Homo sapiens: one gene and its partners. The protein of the gene in region 1 interacts with the protein of each later gene in a pairwise test. Each region holds a gene or a part of one and is shown in the gene's direction. Other genes may lie near its edges.

What was found.
Region 2: the proteins of AHCYL1 (region 1) and SOX30 interact in binary tests that used the Homo sapiens proteins (3 or more experiments, as listed by UniProt).
Region 3: the proteins of AHCYL1 (region 1) and PSMD9 interact in binary tests that used the Homo sapiens proteins (3 or more experiments, as listed by UniProt).
Region 4: the proteins of AHCYL1 (region 1) and JOSD2 interact in binary tests that used the Homo sapiens proteins (3 or more experiments, as listed by UniProt).

What each region holds. Positions count from the first base shown.
Region 1 is NC_000001.11:110,015,744-110,022,764, forward strand, and holds part of AHCYL1 (S-adenosylhomocysteine hydrolase-like protein 1), read left to right. Parts: intron 1-600; coding exon 601-717; intron 718-923; coding exon 924-987; intron 988-1,751; coding exon 1,752-1,840; intron 1,841-2,202; coding exon 2,203-2,273; intron 2,274-2,629; coding exon 2,630-2,724; intron 2,725-2,808; coding exon 2,809-2,907; intron 2,908-3,131; coding exon of another isoform or gene 3,132-3,176; exon of another isoform or gene 3,177-3,307; coding exon 3,308-3,376; intron 3,377-3,804; coding exon 3,805-3,883; intron 3,884-4,987; coding exon 4,988-5,108; intron 5,109-5,930; coding exon 5,931-5,937; coding exon of another isoform or gene 5,938-5,983; 3' UTR 5,984-7,021. UniProt on the Homo sapiens protein: Multifaceted cellular regulator which coordinates several essential cellular functions including regulation of epithelial HCO3(-) and fluid secretion, mRNA processing and DNA replication.
Region 2 is NC_000005.10:157,649,439-157,657,246, reverse strand, and holds the start of SOX30 (transcription factor SOX-30), read left to right. Parts: upstream 1-4,808; 5' UTR 4,809-5,168; coding exon 5,169-6,135; intron 6,136-7,808. UniProt on the Homo sapiens protein: Acts both as a transcriptional activator and a repressor. Binds to the DNA sequence 5'-ACAAT-3' and shows a preference for guanine residues surrounding this core motif. Binds to its own promoter and activates its own transcription.
Region 3 is NC_000012.12:121,884,810-121,891,790, forward strand, and holds the start of PSMD9 (26S proteasome non-ATPase regulatory subunit 9), read left to right. Parts: upstream 1-3,980; 5' UTR 3,981-4,047; coding exon 4,048-4,185; intron 4,186-6,981. UniProt on the Homo sapiens protein: Acts as a chaperone during the assembly of the 26S proteasome, specifically of the base subcomplex of the PA700/19S regulatory complex (RC).
Region 4 is NC_000019.10:50,508,180-50,515,655, reverse strand, and holds the start of JOSD2 (josephin-2), read left to right. Parts: upstream 1-4,464; 5' UTR 4,465-4,539; exon of another isoform or gene 4,540-4,581; intron 4,582-5,207; 5' UTR 5,208-5,224; coding exon 5,225-5,370; intron 5,371-7,476. Other genes in the region: ASPDH (aspartate dehydrogenase domain-containing protein), read left to right, coding at 555-1,165, 2,645-2,729, 2,846-2,995, 3,076-3,296, 3,366-3,520, 3,883-3,926. UniProt on the Homo sapiens protein: Cleaves 'Lys-63'-linked poly-ubiquitin chains, and with lesser efficiency 'Lys-48'-linked poly-ubiquitin chains (in vitro). May act as a deubiquitinating enzyme.

The sequences.
Region 1 (7,021 bases):
CCATTGAGTGATTCTCAACTAGTGTTGAGGGGCGGGTAGGGAATAAATGTATCTTGAAAAACTGTATTCAATATTGTATTATCATTTTATATTTGAAATATGAAAAACAATCCTATTGTAAAACTACATGTTATACACACTACAAAAAGTAAAACTGGGCAAAATATTCTTGGCTTGTTGGAATACTGAAAAGATATCTGAAAGAGTGTTTCTTGGGGGCACATTGCGCATGCTTACTCACACACACACGGAACCATATCAGAATCATTGATAGTCTTTGTTTATCAGAAGTAGGCATGGGTTTCTATTGAAAAATGCTGATCAAAGGAAATAACACTCCCTATAAAGGGAAGAGAAGTACATTTCTTCAATTGAAAGGCTTTTTTTTTTCTTCCAAAAAAGGGGTAAAGGGAGAAGAAAATGAAAAGAAGTGTGGAGGGATGACAAGGAAATAATCATGTTTTCTAATATCCTTGGGCAATAAATGAGACTGGGAAGGGCAGCATGGAACTTGAAGAGAATTAGGCAGATTTTGCCACAAATTATGTTGTGCCAGCTAACTTGGTTTTTGTTTGTTTTTGTGACCTCTTCTCTCTTTAGGCTGTATCAGCTCTCCAAAGCTGGGAAGCTCTGTGTTCCGGCCATGAACGTCAATGATTCTGTTACCAAACAGAAGTTTGATAACTTGTACTGCTGCCGAGAATCCATTTTGGATGGGTAGGTTGAATGTATATATATTCAAACTTCTAGGGGCTCTGGTCTTCCTTTGGCTTTAAAAGTTTATTAGAGGGACCATTTCATACTGAGCTCAACCAGCTTCCAATTGATATTCTCATGGGCATTGGCCCACACTTTTAACTTTGTGAAGAGGGACTGAGTTTGAGCTATTAACGTTTGAGTTGAGCCCTTGTCTGTTTCCACAGCCTGAAGAGGACCACAGATGTGATGTTTGGTGGGAAACAAGTGGTGGTGTGTGGCTATGGTGAGGTAAATAGCTGGGTCTCAGTGTCTCTTTCTTTTTGTGTACTTATTAGAAATATTGGGTAAAGGAGGCTTGTGCTGTCAATCTAGAGTCACTGATACAAGGTTTAAATTTTTTTAGATAATGTATCTCAAACAATAGCAAAAGCCTTTTATTCAGATTTATGAATAGAAACATACAAAATGAATTGAGTTTTCAGATTTTACCATTTTGCCTTGTGGAATAGATACTAGTATCATCTTCCCCAATTATAACAATAACCTTTAATGAGACTTAATTCAAGTGAATATATAGCATTTTAGCCCCACAAGTGACTTGCAGTAGAATTAAGGGTGGAATCTGAAATGGCATATAGTTGAATATCTCCAAACTGGAATAGGTCACATATTTTGTTGTCTTCAGCAATGACCCAAAGAAGTTCCTGAGCTACGAGGGTATCCTTGAGTAGATTCTTCTCAAGTAAGAGAATAGGAAATTAGAGGTTGCTTAGAGTAAGTTGCTTTTGCTTAGTCTTGTTTCCCTGATGAAAACTGCTATGCAAAGCCCCAGTCCTTCCTATGACATGTCTGCTAAATTACCTCTCTAACTGAGGTTCACAACGTAATCTGGGTCTGTTTCTGTTCTGCTTGGGATTGGAGCGTCTGTGCAGCTGCTCACCAGATGACAGGCTATTTCATGAAGGTTAATTCCTGTCTCACAAATAACCTACCTACCCTAAATATCCATGACTTAATGAACCTAACGACTTGACCTTTCTTTTGTTCTGCAGGTAGGCAAGGGCTGCTGTGCTGCTCTCAAAGCTCTTGGAGCAATTGTCTACATTACCGAAATCGACCCCATCTGTGCTCTGCAGGCCTGGTAAGAACAGAGTGATAATACTATTAGATTCACTCTAGGTGCTTTATGTTATTGAGAGTTCATAATTGAGTATATTAATCATTTTTGCAGAAATCACCTAGGGGAAGAGAAGGCTAGGACTGCTCTGTTCTTCTCACTCTAACCCTAGGGCTCTCTGAGAGCCTCTTGGCATTTTTCCTTCCTAGAGGGAGTCTTGGGGACTCTGAAGAGGCCAGTGTATATAGTTTAGCAGAGCTTATCACTCACCATTCCTGTGAGGTGGCACTGGATCCAACTAGAAGGGGATCTTGTCTCATTTCATGACCATCTTCCCTCCCACTGCCTTCTTGCTTTACTCATAGTGTTCCTTTCTTTTCTTCCAGCATGGATGGGTTCAGGGTGGTAAAGCTAAATGAAGTCATCCGGCAAGTCGATGTCGTAATAACTTGCACAGGTAAATAACTTGCATAGAGAAGTGTTTATTCAGAGGCTAAATCTTGAAAGTAGTCTGAGTGACTTTCATACAAAGGAGGTGAGACCTCTGTTCAGTATAAAGGTCTCAGAACTAGAATAAGCTATCAGAACCTTAACATGTTTTCCAGAGTAAAAAACTTTTTTCCCTGGTGACTTTTTATACTGCTTGATCTGAAGACCAGATAGCCTAAGGAGCGGTTATGCATGTCTTCTCTCAGAATGTCTACATGTTCTTTAATGCCAGCAAGCCTCTGGTCTCCTATGTTCTACCTGAAAGCCAGCCAGTACCTTTGTTGCCCGGCATCTCTTTCCTTAACCACCCATCTTTTCTTTTAGGAAATAAGAATGTAGTGACACGGGAGCACTTGGATCGCATGAAAAACAGTTGTATCGTATGCAATATGGGCCACTCCAACACAGAAATCGATGTGGTAAGGCTTCTCTCATTTGTTGCTAGGCATTTCTCTACTACCTTTCATTAATAACCATAGTCAACTGTGCTTTCTTCCTTTCAGACCAGCCTCCGCACTCCGGAGCTGACGTGGGAGCGAGTACGTTCTCAGGTGGACCATGTCATCTGGCCAGATGGCAAACGAGTTGTCCTCCTGGCAGAGGTACACACAGAGAAGGACCCTGGCAGAGCAGCACAAGCAGAGTAGTTAGATCTATGAGGGGGGAGGGGAGGGAAACAAATATTAGGCCTATGTTTCCCTGAATTTTATCTTTGGAGAGAGAGATATTTCACAAATTGGTCCCCAAAATAAAACCACTTTAAAAAAATCTACTTTTTACTAAGTAACACTATTTCCTAACCACAGCTGATTCTTTAACCTTTCAGACTCAGATGGATTTGCAGAAAATAGGAAAAAGCCTAGAGTCCTGATCTGGAACTGTAATTCTTCCTCTTCCAACTGAGTCTAGAGGGGTGTAAAGTCCTCTCCCGCTTTGGCTTGACTTGTATGCCATTGGAATCTGAGACAGAGCTCATCCCAGGGCTCTCTCTTACCTTTCCAGGGTCGTCTACTCAATTTGAGCTGCTCCACAGTTCCCACCTTTGTTCTGTCCATCACAGCCACAACACAGGTATGTGGCAAAATGCCTGCTTACACTGCACTGCAATTTGTGGAACTGGGCGTAGATCAGTTCCAGTGAGGGTGTACTGTACTATGTTCTCATCATCCTATTCTTTTTTGATGTAATAAATTGTGGAAACAGGTATTCTTAAGTATAGAAAAGAGTCACTAAGTCAGTATTCGTTGAATTGGCTGTTTTAGTTGAGAATATAATGTTCCAGCTTAGTTTTATTTGATTTGTTCTTTCGTTAGGAACTAAACAAAAACAACAAATCCTCTTAGGATGTGTGCTGCCCTTTAGTATAGGCAAAGTCCTAGGTACTGTGACTGTGGTAGATCACTGTAGTACTTACCCAAATGCTGTTTAACCTGGTTTTATTTTTATGTGCCTGTCTAAGAAATATTTTTGTGCTTTCTGGCCTTCTTTTCCCACCTTAGGCTTTGGCACTGATAGAACTCTATAATGCACCCGAGGGGCGATACAAGCAGGATGTGTACTTGCTTCCTAAGAAAATGGGTGAGTGAAAAACAGTGGAAATCTATGCAGACAGCTGCATAGTTTGGTAAAATGACTGCCATGAAAGGCATTGGATTTAGAGTCAGAGTTCCAATTCCTGTTCCTGTGCTTACTGGTTGTTTGACCTCAGGACAAGTTCTAATCTCTATGATCCTCAGTTTCTTGATTGGTAAAATGAAAATAATACTACATACATTGTAGAATTGTGTGAGAATCACAGCTAATGAGTAACAGTGCTTAACACAATGGTTTAGGGAGATGTTCTTACTCTAAGTAGCCTTATGAAGTTCAGTAAACTTCCCAGTGCAGCTGAGTACATACAGCCTTGGAACAAAATGAGAGAAACAAACACAGGTTTTATTGTCCATTTTCTGTGAGGATATGCAAACCATCCAATCTCTTGTAAGCAACCCATGCTGTGTTCATGTGACATAATACATCATCTCTAGTCCTTTGCCTTTCTGCACGGTGTACCCATCTCCCATATCTCCTTGGCTAGCCCAAATCCCTGACTTCTTAATGCTAAAATACTTCTTGCTCTCCTCTCCTCCAATAGCTTACTTCAGACTTTTTTTTCAGTGTATAATTATAAAAGGGAAGCTTATCTATGGAAAAGTAAAAATTCTGTGCCGACTACCTTAGAAATTCATGATCCTAAGATCCATGGATCTTATCCTAAATGAGTGTTATTGACACAGGGTCTTTCTAGCTTACTGGTGTCCACTTTGATTGCTAATTTGACTATAATCTAGTTAAGGAGGTTGCTGCAGGAAGGTAGGAGTAGCATGTGACATGTGGGCCACTGCAGGGAAGCCCCCTGCTTTGCCAGAGAAGGATAGAGAGGTAAAAGCCCACTCCCTTTTGTTACCCTGGTAAGTGGCTTTTCTGAACGCACTGTACATGTGCTGAGAGAAGCATCCTGCCCAGAAAGGCAGCTTTGAGGTTTTTTTTTTAATTAAGCAAATATTTCAAGTTGTGGATTCTTTCAGAGTTATTCCATCCCTTGTCTGCTTTCTTAAAAAAGCTTCAAATGAAAATGGGAAGTTATAACTTGAGAGACATTTTGAAAAGGAGTCTGCTCTCCTGCCACTTTGCTCTTCCTAGATGAATACGTTGCCAGCTTGCATCTGCCATCATTTGATGCCCACCTTACAGAGCTGACAGATGACCAAGCAAAATATCTGGGACTCAACAAAAATGGGCCATTCAAACCTAATTATTACAGGTAACCTGGGGAGAAGCAAGTGAAAAGCTCTTTTTCCCAGTATTAAACCAAGCAGGCTAGCCTGCTTCTGACATAAAGATCAAATGTTGTACCTGATTTTGAAGAATACAAGAAATCTGTTCCAGGCCAGGCACGGTGGCTCACGCCTGTAATCCCAGCACTTTGAGAGGCCTAGGCGGATGGATCACTTGAGGTCAGGAGTTCAAGACCAGCCTGGCCAACATGGCGAAACCCTATCTCTTAGCCGGGTGTGGTGGCGGGCACCTGTCATCCCAGTTACTCAGGTGGCTGAGGCACGAGAATCACTTGAACCTGGGAGGCGGAGGTTGCAGTGAGCTGGGATCATGCCACTGCACTCCAGCCTGGGTGATGGAGTGAGACTCTGTCTTAAAAACAAACAAACAAACAAAAAAACTGTTCCAGTTAACAAGGTAGATAGAGAAATTGTGGGAGATATCAGGGAGTTAGGGTTTTTTTGAAATTTTGGAGCCTGGGCCTCACCCTAAGAGATTCTGATATATTTGGTCTGCGATGGGACCAAATTTACAAAACATTATTTTGTAAAACCTCCCCAGATTATTGTAATGTTTAGTCAGGGTTGAAAAAACACTGACTCATTCCTGGGAACAGGCGGTAACACCAGAAATGGCATTGTCAGAGACCCTGTGGAAGAATAAGGGAGACTGGTGCCCTGGGGAATGACTGCAGGGATCCCACCCAGGCTGGGGAGGGGCCCTGGAGAAGGTGCTCTGTTTCCGATTGTTTTTTGGAATTCTCATATGGAAGACATAAGTGTTAACCAATCACTCTCTCTCTTTACAGATACTAATGGACCATACTACCAAGGACCAGTCCACCTGAACCACACACTCTAAAGAAATATTTTTTAAGATAACTTTTATTTTCTTCTTACTCCTTTCCTCTTGATTTTTTTCCTATAATTTCATTCTTGTTTTTTCATCTCATTATCCAAGTTCTGCAGACCACACAGGAACTTGCTTCATGGCTCTTTAGATGAAATAGAAGTTCAGGGTTCCTCACTCTAGTCACTAAAGAAGGATTTTACTCTCCCAGCCCAGAAAGGTGATTCTTTCTTTACCATTTCTGGGGACTTTAGTCTTAATTAGGTACCTTATTAACAGGAAATGCTAAGGTACCTTCTCTGTGGAACAATCTGCAATGTCTAAATCGCCTTAAAAGAGCCCATTTCTTAGCTGCTGAAATCAGTGCTCTTTCACTTCTTCAGAGAAGCAGGGATGGTACCTACCCGGCAGGTAGGTTAGATGTGGGTGGTGCATGTTAATTTCCCTTAGAAGTTCCAAGCCCTGTTTCCTGCGTAAAGGTGGTATGTCCAGTTCAGAGATGTGTATAATGAGCATGGCTTGTTAAGATCAGGAGGCCCACTTGGATTTATAGTATAGCCCTTCCTCCACTCCCACCAGACTTGCTCATTTTTCGAGTTTTTAACTAGACTACACTCTATTGAGTTTAATTTTGTCCTCTAGGATTTATTTCTGTTGTCCAAAAAAAAAAAAAAAGAAAAGAAAAATTAAGGAGAATTTTTGGTGTTAATGCTGAGGAATTGCTTGAGTGGTTAGTTGTTACCAATTTCTCTTTTGAACCTTTGGAGCTAAGGATGCTGAGTCTAGAGAAATGCTAGTCTCAAGCCCTGTTAAGTCCCTCTGTTTCTAGCCCGTAGTTCATAGCATCAGTGAACTGGAGCCACAACAGCAAATTCTATCAGCTGTGTACCATACAGCTTGTGCTGAAGGCGAATTTCTTGAGCCATTACTCAGTATAAAGCACTGAGTTCTATCTTTAGGATTTATCTTTAAGAGCAAATTTCTGGTCAGCTGTGCTTCTGCAACCTAAAATATTTAAAGGGAGGTAGGTGTGGGCAGGAGGAGGAATGA
Region 2 (7,808 bases), on another chromosome or scaffold:
AATTATAAGACTTTTAAAAATAATTTTCAATATATACCAATAATACATTTATACAATTACAGCCCCCAAAAATCCAAACACCATTTTACATTTGATAATGCTTCCTGTGTGGTTTTTGTACCAAATAAGCCAAATGTGACTCTTGCATTAGTGCATTATTGATGACAAACCCAATTCTTTATAAAACCTTATAGACAAATGTATTCAATCTTAATCAGTTTGACTATAAGGTAAGATTCTCACAAACCTTTTATAACCCTTTACATATTTTTGTTAAAGAGCAAATCATAGCAGGTTTTTGCTCTAAAAAAACTTGTGCTTTTATTCCAATGTTTAATTTATAGAAAAACTGAATACCCCTTTAACTTTAACTAATATATTCACACACAGAATGTCCTACAATTAATTTTTCACACTTTCCAAAACTTTCTTAAACCTTCAGCTTCATTCTATCTAACTTAAAACAATAATTTAACCATTTAATCTAAGGAAGAAAATTTACATTCTCATGACTTCTAATGATCTTTTACCAAAAACACATTTCACTTTCCTTACACACCTTATGTGTAGAACTATTCTTCAGTAGTCTCAATTACATGTTACAATGTTAACTTTCAGCGATTTTTACTTTTGGTGAAAACCCTGGTTGGTAAGCATTTTAATTATGTACTAGGTGTGCAGCCTAGGACACAGACAGAAGTGCAGATAAGGTCTGACTTTTTCTAGCATTGCTTGGGGTATGGCTAACATCACATGTCCCCAGGCCTTATCTAGACTCTAATATGGTCAAAGTAGGTAAATTAAACAATTTTCAAAAGTGAAAGCAGCAGCTTATGAACTTAAAGCATTTAGCAAACCTAATATCTGACCTGCATAATTTAGACCAAATGTTTACATTTTAAGATATTTTTATTTTACCAATAATCTTTAAAACTGTCTTCATTTCCCAAAGATTACTTAAGTCACATGAACTATATAAAAGGCATTATATGTTTAATTTTTCTCACAAAAATATGACTGAAGCACTTATTATTTTTAACCGATTAATCAAACCTCTGTTATATACAAGCACCACACACATGATACACATAAATACACAGACAAAAGATAAAGGACTCATCTCCTAAGATGGGAATTGAACCCTGAACCCGGGCCACCACTGTGAAAGAGAAAGCACAGCCACATGGTTACAAGGTCAAGCTCCCAAGGACATACAAGACAAGAGGGAAACCTCATCCAGTTTTTTTCACGGACCTGCAGCAAAGTTTTTAACTGACCAGTTTGCTGGGCCATCTTGAACAGCAGGCTTATAGGTGTCCTAAGCCCATGTTCTATCCTAAGGTACCCCTCTTTATGACAGAACAATACAGAATGACACAGGAAACACACCAGATTGGCTACAGCTTAAGACTAGCCTCACAAATCCTTTCTTCCATTAATCAAAACTTTGTAAGAAATAGTGATTTTTACCATTCCTACAACCAGTTTGCACAGAGAGAGACGACAGCATTGCCTGAGGCAAGGTGGGGAAGGCCAGGCGTTCAGGGAAGCCACAGAAAGATCCACCCACTGCAGCGACAGTGAAGAGTTCAGGTGGCCACTTCTCGGTAGTGAAGGGATGTTTTCCAGCAGTCCCATCGACTCTCAAGTTTCCCCTTTACGGGAGGAAAAAGCTCCTCATGTCCCATGATCCTGTACCTGCCTAACCCTGTCATCCGCATCCATCAGCAAAGAGTACAAGGCAGATTATTCCAAGGAGAATAGAAGTTAACATACCGTAGTGCCAAACCTGTTCTTAGCCAAAGGGGACTTTACCGAGAGGGGCTTCTAGCCCCCTAAATCTTAGAAGGGACTCTAACCCTCCTAAGTTGGGCTTCTAACCCAATCCCATTCTTTATCTGGGTACCCCACCACTTATCCAAAATTGTCCAATCAGTGCTATAGTCTATTTCCTTTGAGTCAGGAGTCTCCTAAGTATCGTCCCTTTAGGGTTCACCAGAAAGATGTTACCGGACCCCACCACTTACCCAAAGTTAGCCTTTGGGTCGGGGTTTCCATACTGCAGTCCATTCCATAGTTGCCAGAAAGATGTTACAGGACCTCACCACTTACTGGGGGCTTACACACTATAATCCCACCTGGGTCACCAGAAAGAAGTTACAGGAAAGGGGTCCAGATCCAGACCCCAAAAGAGGGTTCTTGGATCTCGCACAAGGAAGAATTCAGAGCGAGTCCATAAAGTAAAGTGAAAGCGAGTTTATTAAGAAAGTAAAGGAATAAAATAATGGCTACTCCATAGACTGAGCAACCCCAAGGGCTGCTGGTTGCCCATTTTTATGGTTATTTCTTGATGATAAGCTAAACAAGGGGTGGATTTTTCATGCCTCCCCTTTTTAGACCATATAGGATAACTTCCTGACATTGCAGTGGCATCTGTAAGCTGTCATGCTGCCAGTGTGAGTGTAGTAGTGAGGATGACAAGAGGTAATTCTCATCACCATCTTGGTTTTTGTGGGTTTTAGCCAGCTTCTTTATTGCAACCCGTTTTATCAGCAAGGTTTTTATGACCTGTACTTTGTGCCAGCCTCCTATCTCATCCTGTGACTTAGAATGCCTTAACTGTCTGGGAATGCGACCCAGTATGTTTCAGCCTCATTTTACCCAGCACCTACTCAAGATGGAGGTGCTCTGGTTCACACACCTCTGACAACTTATTTGCCTCTTTTATCAGCTTTTGCTCATGCATACAGTTGCCTCTCCCATTTAAACCCTAGTACAGTGGTTCTCAAAGTGTGGTATGGGGACTGACACTTACAGAGTCAGCTAGGTTAAAACTATTTTCATAATAATCCTAATGTAATATTTGCTCTTTTCACTTCATTCTCTTGTGAGCATAAGGTGGGGAAAATATAATTTTTTCCTATGAAAATGTGTTACCACAGAATGGTTTTATTGTTGACGTTTTAAATGAGTTGCTATCTTTAAAATTTGTTTTTATTTACAACATGGTAAATATTGATAGATGAAATCCACATGAACAAAAGCTTTTTTGGGATCTTCAATAGTTTTTTTTTTTTTTTTTGAGACAGGGTCTTGCTCTGTTGCCCAGGCTGGAGTGCAGTGGCACGATCTCGGCTCCTGCAACCTCTGCCTCCCAGGTTCAAGCGATTCTCCTGCCTCAGCCTCCCGAGTAGCTGGAATTACAGGCATGTGCCACCATGCCCAACTAATTTTTTATTTTTAGTAGAGACGAGGTTCCACCATGTTGGCCAGGCTGGTCTCGAACTCCTGACCTCAAGTGATCCGCCTGCCTCAGCCTCCCAAAGTGCTGGGATTACAGGAGTGAGCCACCACGCCCAGCCCAGGATCTTCAATAGTTTTTATGGGTATAATGAGTTCTTGAGATAAAAGTTTGAAAACCATTGCCCTTGTCTATCTGCCAGGTATAAGAACTCCTACTGACCACATTTGTTACCAGAGGATTGGACAATAAATTGGAGTGGTCTTTGAGTGATAACTTGTCTTGATTGCAAAAATCATCTACGTCAAGATAAACTATAGTTTTTGGCCAGAATGTCATTTAGAAATGCAGCAAATGTTAATACAGGATTTCTTTTTGTTTTTCTTGGTGATGTTTAATGGAAATAAACACAATCCTACTAAAAGGAGAAACATAAACATGGAAAGGATTTGGAACAGTGTCTAGCATAAGAGTAAGCCCTTAACACAGGTAGTGATTATTACTATTTTATTATTACCCTATCACAGTCGCTATTCATTTATTTATTCAACAAGTATTTATTGAGTACTATATGCCAGGCTCAATGGTCTGCATTGTGGATTCAGTGATGGGCAAAACACAAACTGTTCTGCCTTCAAGGACTTTATAGTCTAAAGTGGGAGAGGCAGTGGAATCATCACATGAAAATTCTAATTACAAATTGTGGTAAGCAAACCAAGTGATAGAGGTATAAGTAGACCAAGATTTTATCTGATTTTCAGAGTCAGTAAAAGCTTCTCTGAAGAAGTCCCAGTTGAGCTGCAATATGAAAAATGTGCAGGAGGAATTAAGGAGACACAAAGGAAAGAGTAGCATGCTGAGCATGTTTAAACACCCTGCAGTAGAAAGAGAATGATGATGGGGCCAATGTGGCTGAAACCCAAAGACTCAATAACTATTTAATGGCAAAAACCACAATTACTTTTGCACCAATCTAATAGTAGCAGTAGTAGGAGGTTAGATCCCAAGCCACTGGGGGATTTTTAAGGCTTTGCTAAGAATTTTAGACTTTCATTACATTATCAGTGGGGAGCCATGGAAAGTTTAGGAAAAGTGTGACAACCTTAGATTTGCGTTTTCGAAAGATCACTGGCAGCTGGAGTGTAGTGGGGCAAGGGTGACAAGCAGGGAGACTATTTACAGGGTTACGGCAGTATCCCAGTGAAAGATGCTGGGAGCCTGGAACAGGATAATGGCAGGTAGAGACACAAAACAGTGGATGAATTTGGGATGTATAGTATTTTGGAAGTAGGGCCACAGGGCCTGGTGATTAATTGAAACTTTAGCACAATAATCACACAAAGTCGAAGATCCTCCCCAGCAACATTAGCTAATAGGTTATTGATAAGTTGCAAAATCTTCCCCATTCTCCCTTGGCAAAGATTCAAAAGCCCTGGTGGTACTCAGGGCCGACAGATTACTCAGGCCGCACAGAGCGCGTGCACAAGGCCGTCGCTCCCCTTGTGACGCAAGACTTCATTCCCTGGATGTCAGCGGCCTGGAAGCGCAACGTTTCCTGGGCAACGCCATTGTCGCAGCTCCGGGTGGGGGAGGGATGACTAAAGACAACGGCTGTAAGAGAACTCCACAAGAGAGTCAGAACGAAAATGTGCAACAAGTGCGGCGGCTCCTACCATGGCAGGTGATTCGAGGACTCAGCACGAGGCGAGAGTAGGGACCAGGAAGAGCCGGAAAACCCGCCTGTGATTGGCCGTCCACGGGTATCGGTCGTTGTGATTGGGTGAGGCCCAGACAGACAGCTGCGTTTTGAACCGCGTAGGGTTCTGGGTAGCAAAGGCCTTGCAAGGCTCTTAACCGAAAGGGGGAGGGGGAAGGTCGCCAACAAACGGCTGAGCTCACAATCCTGGCCGGGGCGTCCCCCTCCCCCATGGAGAGAGCCAGACCCGAGCCGCCGCCTCAGCCGCGCCCGTTGCGTCCCGCTCCGCCCCCGCTGCCGGTCGAGGGCACCTCCTTTTGGGCAGCAGCCATGGAGCCCCCTCCGTCGTCTCCCACACTGAGCGCGGCAGCCAGTGCGACCTTGGCCTCGTCGTGCGGGGAGGCAGTGGCGTCCGGCTTACAGCCCGCGGTGCGGCGGCTGCTGCAGGTGAAGCCAGAGCAGGTGTTGCTGCTACCACAGCCTCAGGCCCAGAACGAGGAAGCCGCTGCCTCGTCCGCGCAGGCGCGGCTGTTGCAGTTCAGGCCCGACCTGCGGCTCCTGCAGCCGCCGACAGCGTCAGACGGCGCCACCTCCAGGCCCGAGTTGCACCCGGTGCAGCCCCTGGCGCTGCATGTCAAGGCCAAGAAGCAGAAGCTGGGGCCCAGCCTGGATCAGTCAGTGGGGCCTCGAGGGGCCGTCGAAACCGGTCCTAGAGCCTCCAGGGTGGTCAAGTTGGAAGGCCCCGGGCCGGCCCTCGGCTACTTCCGAGGGGACGAGAAGGGCAAGCTGGAGGCGGAGGAGGTCATGAGAGACTCGATGCAAGGCGGGGCAGGCAAAAGCCCGGCAGCCATCCGAGAAGGTGTGATCAAAACGGAGGAACCCGAGAGACTCCTCGAGGACTGCAGGCTCGGCGCGGAGCCCGCGTCCAATGGCCTGGTTCATGGCAGCGCGGAGGTCATCTTGGCCCCAACGTCCGGTGCCTTTGGGCCGCACCAGCAAGACCTTAGGATCCCTTTGACGCTCCACACGGTCCCCCCTGGGGCCCGGATCCAGTTTCAGGGAGCTCCGCCTTCAGAGCTGATAAGATTGACCAAGGTCCCCCTGACACCAGTGCCTACTAAAATGCAGTCCCTACTGGAGCCTTCTGTAAAAATTGAAACCAAAGATGTCCCGCTCACCGTGTTGCCCTCAGATGCAGGTATTAGACAGCAGGGGAGTCGGGTTTTCAAAACTGCGTCTGTGTTGCCCATAGCTGTTTTGTCAGCAGTTCCCAAGTCTAAACTACAAAAGTAAAGTAATGGAACTGATTGTTTTCAGGGCAGAGTCTGCACAGGTATCACTTCTGATCGACTTGTACATATAGCAGTAAAATACACGAATGCCTTCAAGATTCTCAAGTATTTTTTAAAAAATCGATTTTAAGGCCCAGTATTTAGATAGGACTAATTTTTGTACACAAAAATAGAAATATTCTTGCTAGACAGCGCATAGCCCTCAGTTTATATGCTACAAATAATCAAGATTAAAAATATTGTAGTATAACAGCTCAGTACTTTTATATGTATCAAGAAATAGAAGAAATAATGGTGTTGAATGAAAAAAGTGATTATAATTAAACAGGAAAGTTTATACCGATTATAGAGGCTATCTTTAAAAATGAATAATAAATATTCTAGCAGAAAACAATACGTGATTCAATGTAATATTTTAGGGTTTATTCCTCTGAAAGGTAATGACTTATAGAAATATTGAAAAGAATACAGTAGAATGAGCCATAAATATTATTTTTAAAGAAATGACTAGTTGCAGCAGTAACAAGTACAAATAATGTTTTTATTTCTATTCAGTATTTCCAGATATATAGTTAGCAAATTCTTATTTTAAGATTTAGTTCACACAGAACACTTTGCCAATGAACATCTTGGAAAGTCATATTAATCTTTGGTTCATATTTTTATTAACTTTATGTTTTATTGTTTTTTTAATTTTCTGTGTTGATTCTTCCTCTCCACTCCACCCTGTTGCTTTTATCTTTAGTAGTTTTTAGATTTTATTTTTGTTTTCTAAAGGAAAGAAAGGGAAAGCTTTCTTTATACTACTTATTTCATCTTTAGTGTTTTTAAGAAATTTTTAATATATGAAGTAATCCTAAAATAATATAATAAATTTATGGACAGTTATTTTTGATAAAATACATGAGAGATGTGAATTTAGATAACTTCCTTTGTTGAAATTTCAACTGGCTCTGTGACTTTCTTTTTTTAAATTTTATTTTATGAAAAAGAGATGCTGGTCTCGAACTCCTGGGATGAAGCAGTCCTCCGCCTTGGCCTCCCAAAGTACTGAGGTTACAGGTGTGAGCCATTGTGGCTGCCTTCTCTGACTTTCAAAAAAATTACTTTTATTATTTTCTGTCATTTTTTTTCTGAAATATTGGCAGAGAGGTTCTAGGAATGAAGGTCAGAAGCAAGTGTGAGCCATTTTACCTGCCTTCTGTGACTTTCAAAAAATTATTTTTTTGAGACTGAGTCTCACTCTGTTGCCCAGTCTGGAGTACCGTGGCGTGATCTCAGCTCGCTGCAACCTCCACCTCCTGGGTTCAAGCGATTCTCCTGCCTCAGCCTCCTAGGTAGCTGGGACTACAGGCATGAGCAACCACGCCTGGCTAATTTTTGTATTTTCAGTAGAGATGGGGTTTCATCATGTTGGCCAGGCTGGTCTCAAACTCCTGACCTCGCGTGATCCACCTGCCTTGGCCTCCCAAAGTGCTGGGATTACAGGCGTGAGCCACCGTACCTGGCCCAAAAAATTATTTTTATTGTTTTCTTTCATTTTTCTCCCAGGACACAGGACTAGTGTTGATGATTCCAC
Region 3 (6,981 bases), on another chromosome or scaffold:
ATTTACAAATAATTTACAGAGTCACCAATTATTAACATTTTGCCGTATTTACTTTATCTCTCTCTTGTCTACAAATATATATCTCTTTCTTTTTCTTGAGACGGAGTCTCACTATATGGTCCAGGCTGGAGTGCAGTGGCACGATCTCGGCTCACTACAACCTCCACCTCCCAGGTTCAAGCGATTCTCTCCTGCCTCAGTCTCCCGAGTAGCTGGGATTACAGGTGCCTGCCACCACGCCCAGCTGATTTTTGTATTTTTAGTAGAGACGGGGTTTCACCATGTTGGTCAGGCTAATCTCAAACTCCTGACCTCAAGTGATCCACCCCCCTCAGCCTCCCAAAGTGCTGAGATTACAGGCGTGAGCCACCATGCCCGGCCTTACATATATATCTGTATTTTTTTTTTTTTTAGATGAAGTCTTGCTCTGTCGCCAGGCTGTAGTGCAGTAGCACCATCTCGGCTCATTGTAACCTCTGCCTCCCGGATTCAAGTGATCCTCCTGACTCAATCTCCCGAGTAGCTGTGACTACAGGCATGAGTCACCACGTCCAGCTAATTTTTGTATTTTTGGTGGAGACAGAGTTTCACCATGTTGGCCAGGATGGTCTCCATCTCTTGACCTTGTGATCCGCCCACCTCGGTGTCCCAAAGTGCTGGGATTACAGGTGTGAGCCACCACGCCCGGCCTATATCTGTATTCTTTTCTGAACCATTTGAAAGTAAATTGCCTCTCTTAACCCTAAATACTACAGGGTACTTTTTCTAAGGGCACTGTCTTACAAAACCACAGTGAAAGTATCAAAATCAGGAAATTTTCAGATATCAAGGGTGGGAGGATATTACAATTTTTTTAAAAATCAGGAAATTTGGCCAGGTGCGGTGGCTCACGCCTGTAATCCCAGCACATTGGGAGGCTAAGGCGGGTGGATTGCCTGAGGTCAGGAGTTCTAGACCAGTCTGGCCAACATGGTGAAACCTTGTCTCTACTAAAAATACAAAAAAATTAGCCGAGCATGGTGGCATACGCCTGTAATCCCAGCTACTCGGGAGGCAGGGGAATTGCTTGAACCAGGGAGGTGGACGTTGCAGTGAGCCGAGATCTCGCCACTGCACTCCAGCCTGGGCAACAGAGCCACCACGCCCGGATAATTTTTGTATTTTTAGTAGGGACAAGGTTTCAGCATGTTGGCCAGGCTGGTCTTGAACTCCTGACCTCAGGTGATCCAGCCGCCTCGGTCTCCCAAAATGCTGAGATAACAGGCGTAAGCCACCGCACCTGGCCACATATTGCATTTAGTTTTTTTTTTTTTTTTTGAGATGGGGTCTCACTCTCTCGCCCGGGCTGGAGTGCAGTGGCACGATCTCTGCTCACTGCAAGCTCTGTCTCCCAGGTTCATGCCATTCTCCTGCCTCAGCCTCCTGAGTAGCTGGGACTACAGGCACGTGCCACCATGCCCGGCTAAATTTTTGTATTTTTAGTAGAGATGGAGTTTCACCGTGTTAGCCAGGATGGTCTCGATCTCCTAACCTCATGATCCACCTGGCTTGGCCTCCCAAAGTGCTGGGATTACAGGCGTGAGCCACCGCGCCTGGCCTAGTTTTTTTTTTTTTTTTTTTTTTGAGACGGAGTCTTGCTCTGCCGCTCAGGCAGTGAGCCACCTGCCCTGGCCTCCCAAAATGCTAGGATTATAGCCATAAGCAGCTTACAAAACAGTTTTCTTGAACATGCTTATACTCTTCACGTGGATTTGCTAATTGTTACATTTTGCCTCTTTCTCCCCTTGTATCACTTTCTTCGGACCACTTGCAAGTTAGTAGCAGAAATCATGACACTACACATCTAAATAATTGAGCATTTATCTCGTTCCAATAAAGATAAAAGTGATTCTCTCATATAATTGCAACACCATTATCTGACTGAGGAAATTTAACACTGATATACTATAATTTAATATAAAGTTCATATTTAGATTTCACCAGTTGGCCCAATAAGTCTTGTAAAGCTGCTGTTTCTCATTAAATAATTCAAGTAAGGATCATGTATTGCATTTAGTCATTATTTCTCTCTTCCTCCCTTTTTAACTTTATTATTTATTTATTTATTTGAGACAGAGTCTCACTCGGTCACTCAGGCTGGAGTGCAGTGACATGATCTCAGCTCATTGCAACCTCTGCCTCCCCGGTTCAAGCGATTCTCCTGCGTCAGCCTCCCAGGTAGCTGGGATTACAAGTGTGTGGCACTGTGCCTTGGTAACTTTTGTATTTTTAGTAGAGACGGTGTTTCACCATGTTGGCCAGGCTGGTCTTGAACTCCTGACCTCAAGTGATCCACCCACCTCAGCCTCCCAAAGTGCTGGGATTACAGGTGTGAATCACCACACCTGGTCCTCTGCTAATTAATTATTATTTTTTTTTTTTTGTAGAGATGGAGGTCTTGCTATGTTGCCCAGGCTAGTCTCAAACTCCTGGACCTAAGGGATCCTCCTGCCTTGATCTCCCAGCATAATGGGACTACAGGTATGAGCCACTGCACCTGTATTTCTCTCTCTCTCTCTCTCGATAATGTTAGAAATGTTAGTTTATTTTTGAGGGGTGCGGTAGCTCACTCCTGTAATCCCAGCACTTTGAAAGGCCGAGCTGGGCTGGATCACTTGAGGCCAGGGGTTCGAGACCTCAGCCTCCTGAGTACCTGGGATTACAGGTGTGTGCCACCACACCCGGCTAATATTTTATATTTTTGGTAGAGACAGGGTTTCACCATGTTGGCGAGGCTAGTCTCAAACTCCTGACCTCAAATGATCTGCTTGCCACAGCCTCCCAAAGTGCTGGGATTATAGGCATGAGCCACCACACCTGGCCCATTGCATTTAGTTGATGCACATCTTTAGTGTTCTTAAATCTAGGCAATTGCATATCCGCCTCCTTTCTCTGTCCCCCACCCCTTATTCCCCATGTGTATTTCACAACATTGACTTTTTTTGAAGTTTTCAGGCCAGTTGTTTTGAAGTATGTCCCTTCTTTTGGATATGTCTGTTTTCCAATGATTAGATTCAGGGCAAACATGTTTGAATACTACACAGATGACCGCTGAGCCCTTTTCAAGACAAAATATTAGAGGCACATGGTCAGATATCAAAGTTGATTGTTTAGGTAAGCTGGGTTGGAATTTTGGCCTCACATTTTGCTAGTTGGGTAAATTGGTTATTGAGACGGTTTTCTCAGCTGTCAAATTGGGATGTAATAATCTAGCTTCATGAGGTTGTTGAATTAATATATGTAAGGCATTTAGAACAGCGTCTGGCACATTATAAGTATCAATAAATAAACACTGTTACCGTTATTATTATCACTACGATTTTTAGAGGCCTTAACAGGAACATCCAGCACCTTCAACAGTATATGGCTCATAGGAATCATTCCATGAATATTTGTTAGCAGAAGGACAGCTCTATGAGATAGATTGCTATCAATTACTGCCCCATTTTACAGATGAGGAAACTGAGGCCCAGAGAAGCCAAGTAGTGACCTAGGGTCACACAGATTGCCGTTAAGTGGCAAGATACGGGGTGTGTACTCAGGCATATCGGATCTGTAAAGTGAGGGATAAGGAACCTTAATGTATTTTGTAAATCCTCCAGGGCTGTGTGGATGTGAAGAACTGAATTGGAGCGCCACGCAGCGGTTCTCTGGCGTACAGTATCCATCCATACAGTAGGCGCTCAATAAATGTCTGCTGCACGAATGAGAAAATGAGTCAGCTGGGGCGAGATCATCCCCTAGCGTTGGTGTGCAATTGCGTGGGGATCCATTGCTTCCGACGCTACTCCTGCCGGGTCACCACAGGCGCACGTGTTCCGGCAGGGCGCGGCTTCCGGTGACCCAGCTCCGCCCTAAGCCCCATCCCAAGCCCCGCCCCTTGACTGTTCTCGCGTTCGCGGACGGCTGTGGTGTTTTGGCGCATGGGCGGAGCCGTAGTTACGGTCGACTGGGGCGTCGTCCCTAGCCCGGGAGCCGGGTCTCTGGAGTCGCGGCCCGGGGTTCACGATGTCCGACGAGGAAGCGAGGCAGAGCGGAGGCTCCTCGCAGGCCGGCGTCGTGACTGTCAGCGACGTCCAGGAGCTGATGCGGCGCAAGGAGGAGATAGAAGCGCAGATCAAGGCCAACTATGACGTGCTGGAAAGCGTGAGTGTGGGTTCGGGGCGCCCCAAGTCGCCTAACCCGGCCCGGAGTCCCTGGGGTACTGGGATGCCAGGGCGGCCTCAGTTTGGGCGCTCCGCAACGGATCTCCCTGGGAGGCCCAAGGCGCCGCAAGTGCGGCCTCTGTCGGCACAAGAAGGCAGGCAAAGAACTTTAGCAACTGAAGAGTTAGCCATATTGATATCCAGCAAGAGTTTGTGGAGCCCTGCTGTGTGCTAGGCGCTGGTTTAAGTGCTGTGCATTGTTGAGTTAATTTAATCTTTGCAACAACCCTTTGAGGTGGATGCTGTTACTCTTTCCATTTTAGGGAGGGGGAAACAGGTGTTACTTGGTGATTAAACAGCTGTCATGTGCCTCGCTGACTGCCTTATCTTAATTTTGTACTTTTTGTAAAGACAGAGTCTCACTGTGTTGCCCAGGTTGGTATCGAACTCATGGCCTCAAGCGATCCTTCCACCTCGGCCTTTCAAAGTGCTGGGATTACAGGCGTGAGCTACTGCACCCGGCATTTGCTGATTGTATCGTGAATTCTTAAACTTCAGTGTGTATATGAATTACCTGGGGATCTTATTAAAATGCAGATTTTGTTTGAGGCAAGGGAGCAGATTCTGCATTTGTAGCAAACTCCCAGCAATGCTGATGCTAGTGGTCTAAGGACCGAACTTTGAGTTACAAATAAGGCTCATCATCCTTATTGCATAAGGAGGAAACTGAGGCCCAGAGTGGGGCAAACGCCTATCTAAGGTCATGTAGTTCGGAAGTGGCAGTGGTGGGTCTGGCTCAAAAGCTGATGCAGGTTTTCTTATGCCATCTAGTGTAAAATCACAGATCAGTTTGCAGAGGAAGATGCAATTAATTATGCCCAAGTAGGGTGGGATGGAATGCATTTTAGGTGATGTAAGATGAAGTTTCTTTTTTTTTTGTCTGAGACGGAGTCTTGCTTTGTCACCCAGGCTGGAGTGCAGTGGCTCAATCTCGGCTCACTGCAGCCTCTGCCTCCTGGGTTCAAGTGATTCTCCTGCCTCAGCCTCCCGAGTAGTAGGGATTACAGGCGAGCGCCAGTACGCCAGGCTAATTTTTTATTTTAAGTAAAAGCAGGGTTTCACCATGTTGGTCAGGCCGGTGTTGGATTCCTGACCTCAGGTGATCCGCCCACCTTGGCCTCCCCAAGTGCTGGGATTACAGGCGTGAGCCACCGCGTCCGGCCATAAGATGAAGTTTCATACGGAGGGCCAGAGAACCATTTTACTGGGTGCTGACTATATGCTCAAAGTGGGATTCAGACTTCAGGTCTGTTACATTCAGAACCTGTGCTTTCAAGCAAATTACCAGCAATTTCTCAAACTTTAGTTTACTTTCTACCACATGCAGTATACTATATGCATATACCACTTGTGTTATTCCTTTGATATTTTTATTTAAATAGATCTACTTTTAATCTTATATAAATGTATTATTATTGTTATTATTATTATTGAGACAGGGTCTCGCTCTGTTGCCCAGGCTGGAGTTCAGTGGCACCATCTTGGTTCACTGCAGCCTCAATCTCCTGGTGTCAAGCAATCCTCCCACCTCAGCCTCCCAAGTAGCTGAGACTGCAGGTACGTGCCACCACGCCCAGCTAATTTTTGTATTTTTTGTAGCTATGGGGTCTCACTATGTTGCTTGCTCAGACTGGTCTGAAACTCCTGGGCTCAAGCAGTCCTCCTGCCTCTGCCTCCCAAAGTGTTGGGGTTACAGGCATGAGCCACAGTGCCTTGCCCATAAATGTATTTTAAAAGGAAATTTCAAAACTCCGCTGCATATGGAAAATGATAATCTCTTCTCTTAAATATAAGGTCAGATGCTTTGCATGTTGATACGGCATGTTGGTTGCTTCTGGCTAGCTGCTGTTGCTTGCTGAAAGCTTTCAGCCTGAAACCGTGCTCTATATTTGTTTTTAAAAAGTGGGTTTGGGCCGGGCCTGGTGGCTCACGCCTGTAATCCCAGCACTTTGGGAGGCCAAGGTGGGTGGATCACCTGAGGCCAGGATGGTCTCGATCTCCTGACCTCGTGATCCGCCCGCCTCGGCCTCCCAAAGTGCTGGGATTACAGGCTTGAGCCACCGCGCCAGGCCTACAAAAAATTTTTTTAAAAATTAGTTGGGCGTGGTGGTGCATGCCTGTAGTCCTAGCTACTTGGGAGGCTGAGGCAGGAGGATTGCTTGAACCCTGAATGTTGAGGCTGCAGGGAGCTATAATTGCACCACTGCACTCTCTTGTGGGTGACAGAGTGAGATGCTGTCTCTTTAAAAAAAAAAAAAAAAAAAAGGCCGGGTGCGGTGGCTCATGCCTCTAATCCCAGCACTTTGGGAGGCCGAGGCGGGCGGATCACGAGGTCAGGAGATCGAGACCATCCTGGCTAACACAGTGAAACCCCGTCTCTACTAAAAATACAAAAAATTAGCTGGACGTGGTGGCCAGCGCCTGTAGTCCCAGCTACTCTGGAGGCTGAGGCAGGAGAATGGCCTGAACCCGGGATGTGGAGCTTGCAGTGAGCCAAGATTGCGCCACTGCACTTCAGCCTGGGTGACAGAGCGAGACTCCGTCTCAAGAAAAAAGAAAAAAAAAAAAAAGACTGGGCATGGTGGCTCACGTCTGTAATCCCAGCACTTTGGAAGGCCGAGGTGTGTGGATCGCTTGAGGTCAGGAGTCCGAGACCAGCCTGGCCAACATGGTGAAACCCCGTCTCAACGAAAAATACAAAAATTAGCCAGGTGTGGTGGTACACATCTATAATCCC
Region 4 (7,476 bases), on another chromosome or scaffold:
AGGGCCCAATCCAGAGTGTGTCTCTCCACTGCAGACCCCCTCAAGGCTGCTCCAGAGGACGGGGTGCCGAAGGGGAGGGAGGCCAAGCGGGAGGCTGGGCCTGCGGCCTCTGGGGCACAGCAGCTGTATTTCTGGCCGGTTCAGTGGGAGGCTGGAGGGCCGGATCGGGTGGGCCTGGGGCGGCAGGGGCACCACAGTGCCACTCAGAAGGGCAGGAGCAGAGCCCTGGGAGGGCAGGGAGCAAACCCTGAGCGGGCCTGGCTGGGGGGTTGCTGGCACAGTGGGCAGCTGTTGGGTGGGTTGGGGGAGGGGGTGGTGATGTCTCTTGGGGGGTCAAGGTGCCCGAGTTGCAGGCCCTGGAGGGCTGGGGCTGGCCAGGGCTGCCATCTCACGCTGCTGGGGGAGGCAGAGGGAGGGACGGAGCCATGCAGGGCCTTCCAGTGCTTTCCCACGCTGAGGTGGCTTCGGGGACACAGCCCTGAGGACACACAGGCCTGCGCCCAGCCCCCTTCTCCCCTCGTAGTGGCCCAGGCTGTACCCCGTACACGGCAGCTATGGGCACTATGGGGACACTCAGGCCCCAGCAGGAGTCAGAAGGTAGAGATGGCGGGAGGCCCCCCACTTCCGTGAGGTGCCTGGCCCCTGCCCCCTTCCTGGCTCTGTCTACACCCAGGCATCTCATCTCTCCCACACCGGGGGCTCCTGGCTCTGGAAGCCAATTCCTCCCTTATCAGCAGCGGCAGCCTTTGGGTGCCACGTCGGGGTCTTGGCCCCTCTCTGTCTGCCCGCGTCTGTCTCCTCTCTCCTCCCGTCAACTTGGGGCTCTCGCCACCCAGTGCCCGCCCCCCCCACCCCATGCTCCCGTTCACGCTCTCTTTCTCTCCAGCCTCCTTCCAGCGCCAATCCTGGTTGCCATGGAAACACTGCAGCGGGTACCAGGTGGTGGCTGGGGGCAGGGAGCCTGCGCTGCCGCAGCCTGCGCCATTTCCGATGCCAGGCACCCTCAAGGCACAGAGGCTGGGGCTCATGTTGGGGGCACTTGGCCTCTCCAGGCCTCGAAGGCTTCTCCTGGGCTGACGCGAGCTGGGGAACGGGAGGGACGGACGTGGGAGCGAGAACGTCACACTGGAGGCAGCTGGTGGCACGATGGGGGACAGAGTGAAAGGTAGCAAGTCAAGGTGAACTGAAGGATGATCAGAGCGGAGGGAGGCTGTGGACAGGGGCGGAGGCTGTGGGAAGGGGACCCGTGCTGCGCAGCGGGGCTAGGGAGGTTGGACCCGCTGAGGCAAGGGCACATTGAGGAGAAGCCACAACCAGGGCTCCCGCTGCCTCTGGGAGGGCTAGGGCCACGGCCAGGCTGAAGCCTCCCTCAGACCTTAGCCGCCTGAGGACAAGGAGGAGAGGTGAGCACGAGGGGACAGACAGAGCCCAGAGTCCCTGTCACCATCTCTTCTCCCAACCCAAAGCAAGATGCAGTTTCCATGACAACCTGGCCGGCCAGAGAGGGGGCAGGGGACTGCAGAGGAAACTTTCCACATCAGCAGGGAGAAAGAGGGTGTGCTGCAGGGGAAAGGGGGGCACGCAGGGTTCCCAGAACCCCCGGTCACCATGCTCACTGTGCTGGACCCGGGAAAGTGGACAGAGCACAGGGAAGGGTTCTCCCGCCTCCACTCCCGCAGGCCCACGCCCCCACGCTGGGCCTGCGGGGAAGGGGGAAGACTGAGCCCAGAGGCTCAAGGGTCAGATGTCCAAAGAGCAGCGGCTGCCCAGGCCTTGTGCAGCGGGCAGCGAGCAGCCCAGGGAGCCAGGCCCCAGACACCGCACTCAGGGCCATGGCCGACAGGGGCCCGTGGAGGGTGGGCGTGGTGGGCTATGGCCGCCTCGGTGAGTCCCTGACCATCCTTGGCCTCCTTCCCCAAACCCCTTCCTAAAGCTCCCAAGACTCTCTGCCCTCCACAAACACTTTTTTCTCTCTCTATCTGCCCCTGGCTGTGTCTCTGGGTCTGCCCACTGCACCCCCACCCCAGGTCTCTGTCCTCTCCGTCTCTGTCTCCCTTCTCTCTGGGCCTCTGTCCACCCCACTGTGTCTCTGCCCTGCCCCCATCTCTGTCTCCCTACCCCGCAATCTGAGTCTGTCCCCACCTCCTCTCTCTCTGGGTCTCTGTCCCCACCTCCTCTCTCTCTGGGTCTCTGTCCCCCTCTCTCTGGATCTCTAGCCCTCTCCTTTCCCTCTCCCCAGGACAGTCCCTCGTCTCCCGCCTCTTGGCTCAGGGACCAGAACTTGGCCTAGAACTTGTTTTTGTCTGGAATCGTGACCCAGGACGAATGGCAGGGAGCGTGCCCCCTTCCCTGCAGCTCCAGAACCTTGCTGCCCTTGGGGAAAGGTCAGTGACCTTGCCATGGGAGAGTGGAGCTCCCTGAAGCTCCTGTCCTGGCTCTCTTAGCCACTGTGTGATCTCAGGGGTTCCCTGACCCTCTCTGGGCCTTGGTTCAAGCAAATGTGAAACAGGACGAACCCATTCATCTCATTTCGCCTCCCAGGTCAGGGAGAAGAAGGGCAGCCCTCAGTAGACTCGGAGGGAACCTTGGGGAGAAGAGGCCTAATACCTCTCCAAGACCCTCCGCCCTCTTTCCCCTCTCCCAGGCGCCCTGATCTGGTTGTGGAAGTGGCCCATCCCAAAATAATCCATGAATCTGGGGCACAAATCCTGCGCCATGCCAATCTCCTGGTAAGCCCCACCCCAACCATTTACGCAGAGCCCTGCCCCTTCTGTCTTGGTCTCACCCCACCCTGAAGTGGATATCCTTCCCTGACCTCAACCCTCCCCTCCTTCATCCACCCCAGGTGGGGTCCCCCTCAGCTCTAAGTGACCAGACCACAGAGCGGCAGCTCTTGGAGGCCTCACAGCACTGGGACCACGCCGTGTTTGTGGCCCGAGGGGCCCTGTGGGGCGCTGAGGACATCAGGAGATTGGATGCAGCTGGGGGCCTCCGGGTGAGGCCTGCTGGGCTCCCCAGGAACCAGGGGAGGCCTGCAAAGACCCCACTCCCCCTAACCCGGGCTCTTGCTTCCAGAGCCTTCGTGTCACCATGGCCACACACCCCGATGGCTTCCGGCTTGAGGGACCCCTGGCTGCAGCCCACAGCCCTGGGCCTTGCACTGTGCTCTACGAAGGCCCTGTCCGTGGGCTCTGCCCCTTTGCCCCGCGAAATTCCAACACCATGGCGGCGGCTGCCCTGGCTGCCCCCAGCCTGGGCTTCGATGGGGTGATTGGGGTGCTCGTGGCTGATACCAGGTGAGCAGAGCTAAGCAGGGTGTTGGGCTGAGTCCAGGCTCTCCAGACTGACTGCCCCTCTTGTCCCAGCCTCACGGACATGCACGTGGTGGATGTAGAGCTGAGCGGACCCCGGGGCCCCACGGGCCGAAGCTTTGCTGTGCACACCCGCAGAGAGAACCCTGCCGAGCCAGGCGCGGTCACCGGCTCCGCCACCGTCACGGCCTTCTGGCAGAGCCTCCTGGGTGCGGCCAGGCCCCTCTCCCCCGGCCCTGGGCTCCTGTGTTCTGCAGAGCTTGGGGGTCCCGGGCTCTCACTAGTTCTGCAGTTCTGGTTCTGTATTTGTTGACCTTTCTTTCTTTCTGACCTTTATTTCCTTAACCTCTCTCCATGACTTTGAATCCTGGCACTGTAGATGTCTCCATTTGTGCCCGCCTCTGATCGAGACTCTCTCTGTCTCTGTCCACCCCCAGGGCTCTGTCCCGCTCTCTCCGGGTCTTCCTCCACCGCCCCCCTGCCCTGTCCCCTCCTCCCACCACTGCCTCCCCCAGGCGTCTGTCTCCTCATCTCTCCTCTGTCTCATTCGCTCATTCCCCTCTCCCCGCAGCCTGCTGCCAGCTCCCCTCCAGGCCGGGGATCCATCTCTGCTGAGAAGCCTCCTCCCTCCCGAGACAAGATCATCTGCCTGGCCTCTCACCACCACCATCCCACCCCTGCCCTGCCCCACTTCCCCAGGGTCTCCCTTCTGACTCAGTAAAGATCACCGCTGCCTCCCCCCGCACCGCCTGGCGTCTCTGATCCCTTTCCCTTGTGTGACGTCACGCTGCGTCTGCGCACCGCGCATGACGCCATCGCCGGGGGCGAGCACCCATGAGAGCGCGGCGCCAGGAAGCTATCGCGAGAGCCTACCTACTAAGTTTCCTAGAATCTCTGAGCAGTAGTGGGCGCGGCCGTATGCGAAAGAAGGGCCTCTGAGGCGCACTTCCGGGACCTGCCGCGGAGCCCGACGGAAGTTGTAGTGCGGCATTTCCTAGGCCCGACGGCCGACTTCAGGGCCACGCGGCCCGGGCGTTCCGTGTGGAGCAGGAGTCCCGCGGGGCCCCACGGGAGTCGTAGTCCGGCGCGCGGGGATCACCGGGAGCTGTAGTCCGTCCCGCCTGCCCAGTCAGCGCGGTGTTGCCCGCCCCGCACTCGGAGCCCAGAGCCGCCGCCCAGGAAGGGGATGCGGAAACCCCTGGCTCGGTGGAGCGGAGAGGCAGGCGGGGTGAGGGGCGTTGCCAGGCAAAGGGCGAGCGCCGTGGCTGGGGTGCGGGTCGGCGAAGGGCTCCATTCCTTGGTGTCCGGGGAGGGGGCCTGGTTGCTGGGTGATAGGAAGAGGAACTCCTGTTGCTTAGTGACTGGGGAGGGGGCCCCGTTGCCAGGTGACAAGAGCAGAGAGCCTCGCTGCTACATGACCGGGGAAGGGGAGTCTTCTGTTGCTAGGAGACCAGAGGGGACCCTATCACCTAGAGACAGGGGAGGAGGATTCTCTATTGCTAGGTGCTCGGAGGACAGACTTTGTTACCTAGTGCGGTGGGGAGGGGGCTTTGTTGCTAGGTAACCACAGAGCGCCCTGGTTACCTAGGGACGGGGAGGCAGGTTCCTCTGTTGCTAGGTGACCATGATAGGGACCCTTTTACTTAGAGACCTGGTGAGGGTGGTTTTCTGTTGCTAGGGGAGCAGAAGAGACAGCGTTTTTCGTAGGAATAGGAATAAGGGATGGAGGGACGTGTGCTGCCAGGAGACTGCCAGGGAGCGGGGTCAGGGGCCCAGTGTCTTCCTGGGCTGCTCCGAGTCCCAGCTCAATCAATGGCGATGCCCCAAAGGCCTGCTGGGAGGCTGGACCTCTAGATCCCGGGCCCCTGAGGACCTTCTCCCCCTCCCAACCCCCAGCAGGAGCCGAGGACGGCATGTCCCAGGCCCCGGGAGCACAGCCGAGCCCACCCACCGTGTACCACGAACGGCAGCGCCTGGAGCTGTGTGCTGTCCACGCCCTCAACAACGTTCTGCAGCAGCAGCTCTTTAGCCAGGAGGCTGCCGATGAGATCTGCAAGAGGTGACCGTCACCCACCCCAGCCCCTGGAGCAGCAGAGCTCTGGCGGAGTGACCCACCTGGGTCTCGCCGCCAGGCAGGCGCTGAGCCTTGGGGGCTTTCTTCTGCTCCGCGCTCACTTGCCTAAGCTAGACGCTGGGACTCTGGGGAGATGTTGCCTCCTGTGCCTGTCTGTCCCTGTGGCCTCAGCCCCAGCCAGACCTCAATCCAGTGGTTCTTTCTTTTTTTTTTTTTTTTGAGACTGAGTCTCACTCTGTTGCCCAGGCTGGAGTGCAGTTGCGCGATCTCGCTCACTGCGAGCTCGGCCTCCCGGGTTCATGCCATTCTCCTGCCTCAGCCTCCCGAGTAGCTGGGACTACAGGCACCCGCCACCACGCCCGGCTAATTTTTTGTATTTTTAGTAGAGACGGGGTTTCACCATGTTAGCCGGGATGGTCTCAATCTCCTGACCTCGTGATCCACCCGCCTCGGCCTCCCAAAGTGCTAGGATTACAGGCGTGAGCCACTGCACCCGGCCCAGTGGTTCTTTCTTTAGAGACAAGGTCTGGCTGGTCTTGAACTCCTGAGCTTAAGTGATCCTCCCACCTCAGCCTCCCCAGTAGCTGGGATTACAGGCTCACCCAGCTTCAGGCATCTCTTATCTGGGCCCTGTCACAGCTCTCCAGTCCATCCTAAACACGCCCCCGCCCTACTCAGGGCCCTCCTCATAGCGGAGGCCGAGCCTGCCTCCGCATCTTCAGCCCTCACGGCCCCCCTCAAACCAGACTCTCCACTCCCGTGAGCCCTTCTGTGCGGCCTCTGGGCTTCCAGGTACTTCTTTCTGCCCGGCATGGCTTCCTTCTCTGCCAGCATGGAATGTTCCTCTTCACTATTCACAATGTCCAACATCACTCTTTGGCCGGGCGCAGTGGCTCACACCTGTAATCCCAACACTTTGGGAGGCTGAGGCGGGTGGATCACTTGAGGTCAGGAATTCCAGACCAGCCTGGCCAACAGGGCGAAACCCCGTCTCTACTAAAAAATAAAAATAAATAAAAAATAAAATTAGCTGGGCGTGGTGGCACATGTCTGTAGTCCCAGCTACTCTGGAGGCTAAGGTGGGAGAATTGCTTGAAGCTGGGAGACAGAGGTTTCAGTGAGCCGGGCAACAGAGCAAGACTGTCTCAAAAAAAAAAAAAAAAAAAATCACTCCTTTACCATCTCTCACTCCCTCCTCTCTGTCCCCATGTCCCTGGCCCCAGCTCAGGCCTGACCCTCTCCTGCCCAGCCTGCCCATGGCCTCCAGTCTGTCCCTGCCTTCAGTCCCCACTTGATCCTAGAGAGTCTTTCTACACCTGGAGATGGCCCTGCCTCCCCTGCCTCTTGCTCCAAGCCTCCTCCGGCTCTCGGACATCTTAAGAGTCCCAGCCCCTCAGACTGATTATTATGGTATTTAGTCATCTCCTCTATCATTCGCAACAAGGACCCATCAGCTCTTTCATACAAAAGCCATGCTGGAGACCCTGAGATGACTCAGACACAAGTGCCAGCCTAAGGGTGGTGAGGGAAACACACACACACACACACACACACACACACACACACACACACGAGCGTTTTCCTCCCATGTCCTGCCTGCCCAGGGTCCAGATAGGGAACAGAGGTGCAGCTGTTCAGAGGCAGGGCCCAGAGACAAGTGGTGACAGGCGGAAGAGCCTTCCTAGGCAGGGGAAGAGCTGGAGGAAAGGTTGGCGGGGGTGGGGCGGGAGGCGGTGGGCACCGGGGATGTGGCTGGGGACAGGGGACCAGGAAGGAGGGTGCTGAGGCTCTGAGGTGAGGCCACCAGAGCCAGACCACGCAGGGCCTTGTGGGACTCTGTCCTGGGGGAAATGAGGCAGCAGAGTGGGCTGTGAGCAGGGGAGGGGTGAGGGCAACCCCGTGGGAGAAGCAAGCAGTGTTAAATCAGGGTGATGCGGGCAGCTGTCATCGTTGAGGTGGCTCAGTTCACTGGGGGAGCCCAGACAGGGCCCCGATCCAGCCTGGAGGTCAGGAGGCTCCTCTCAGAGGACGTGACATCTGAGGTGGGCCTTGAAGGACAGAGGAAGGGACTGGCGGAGGGACAGGGACTTT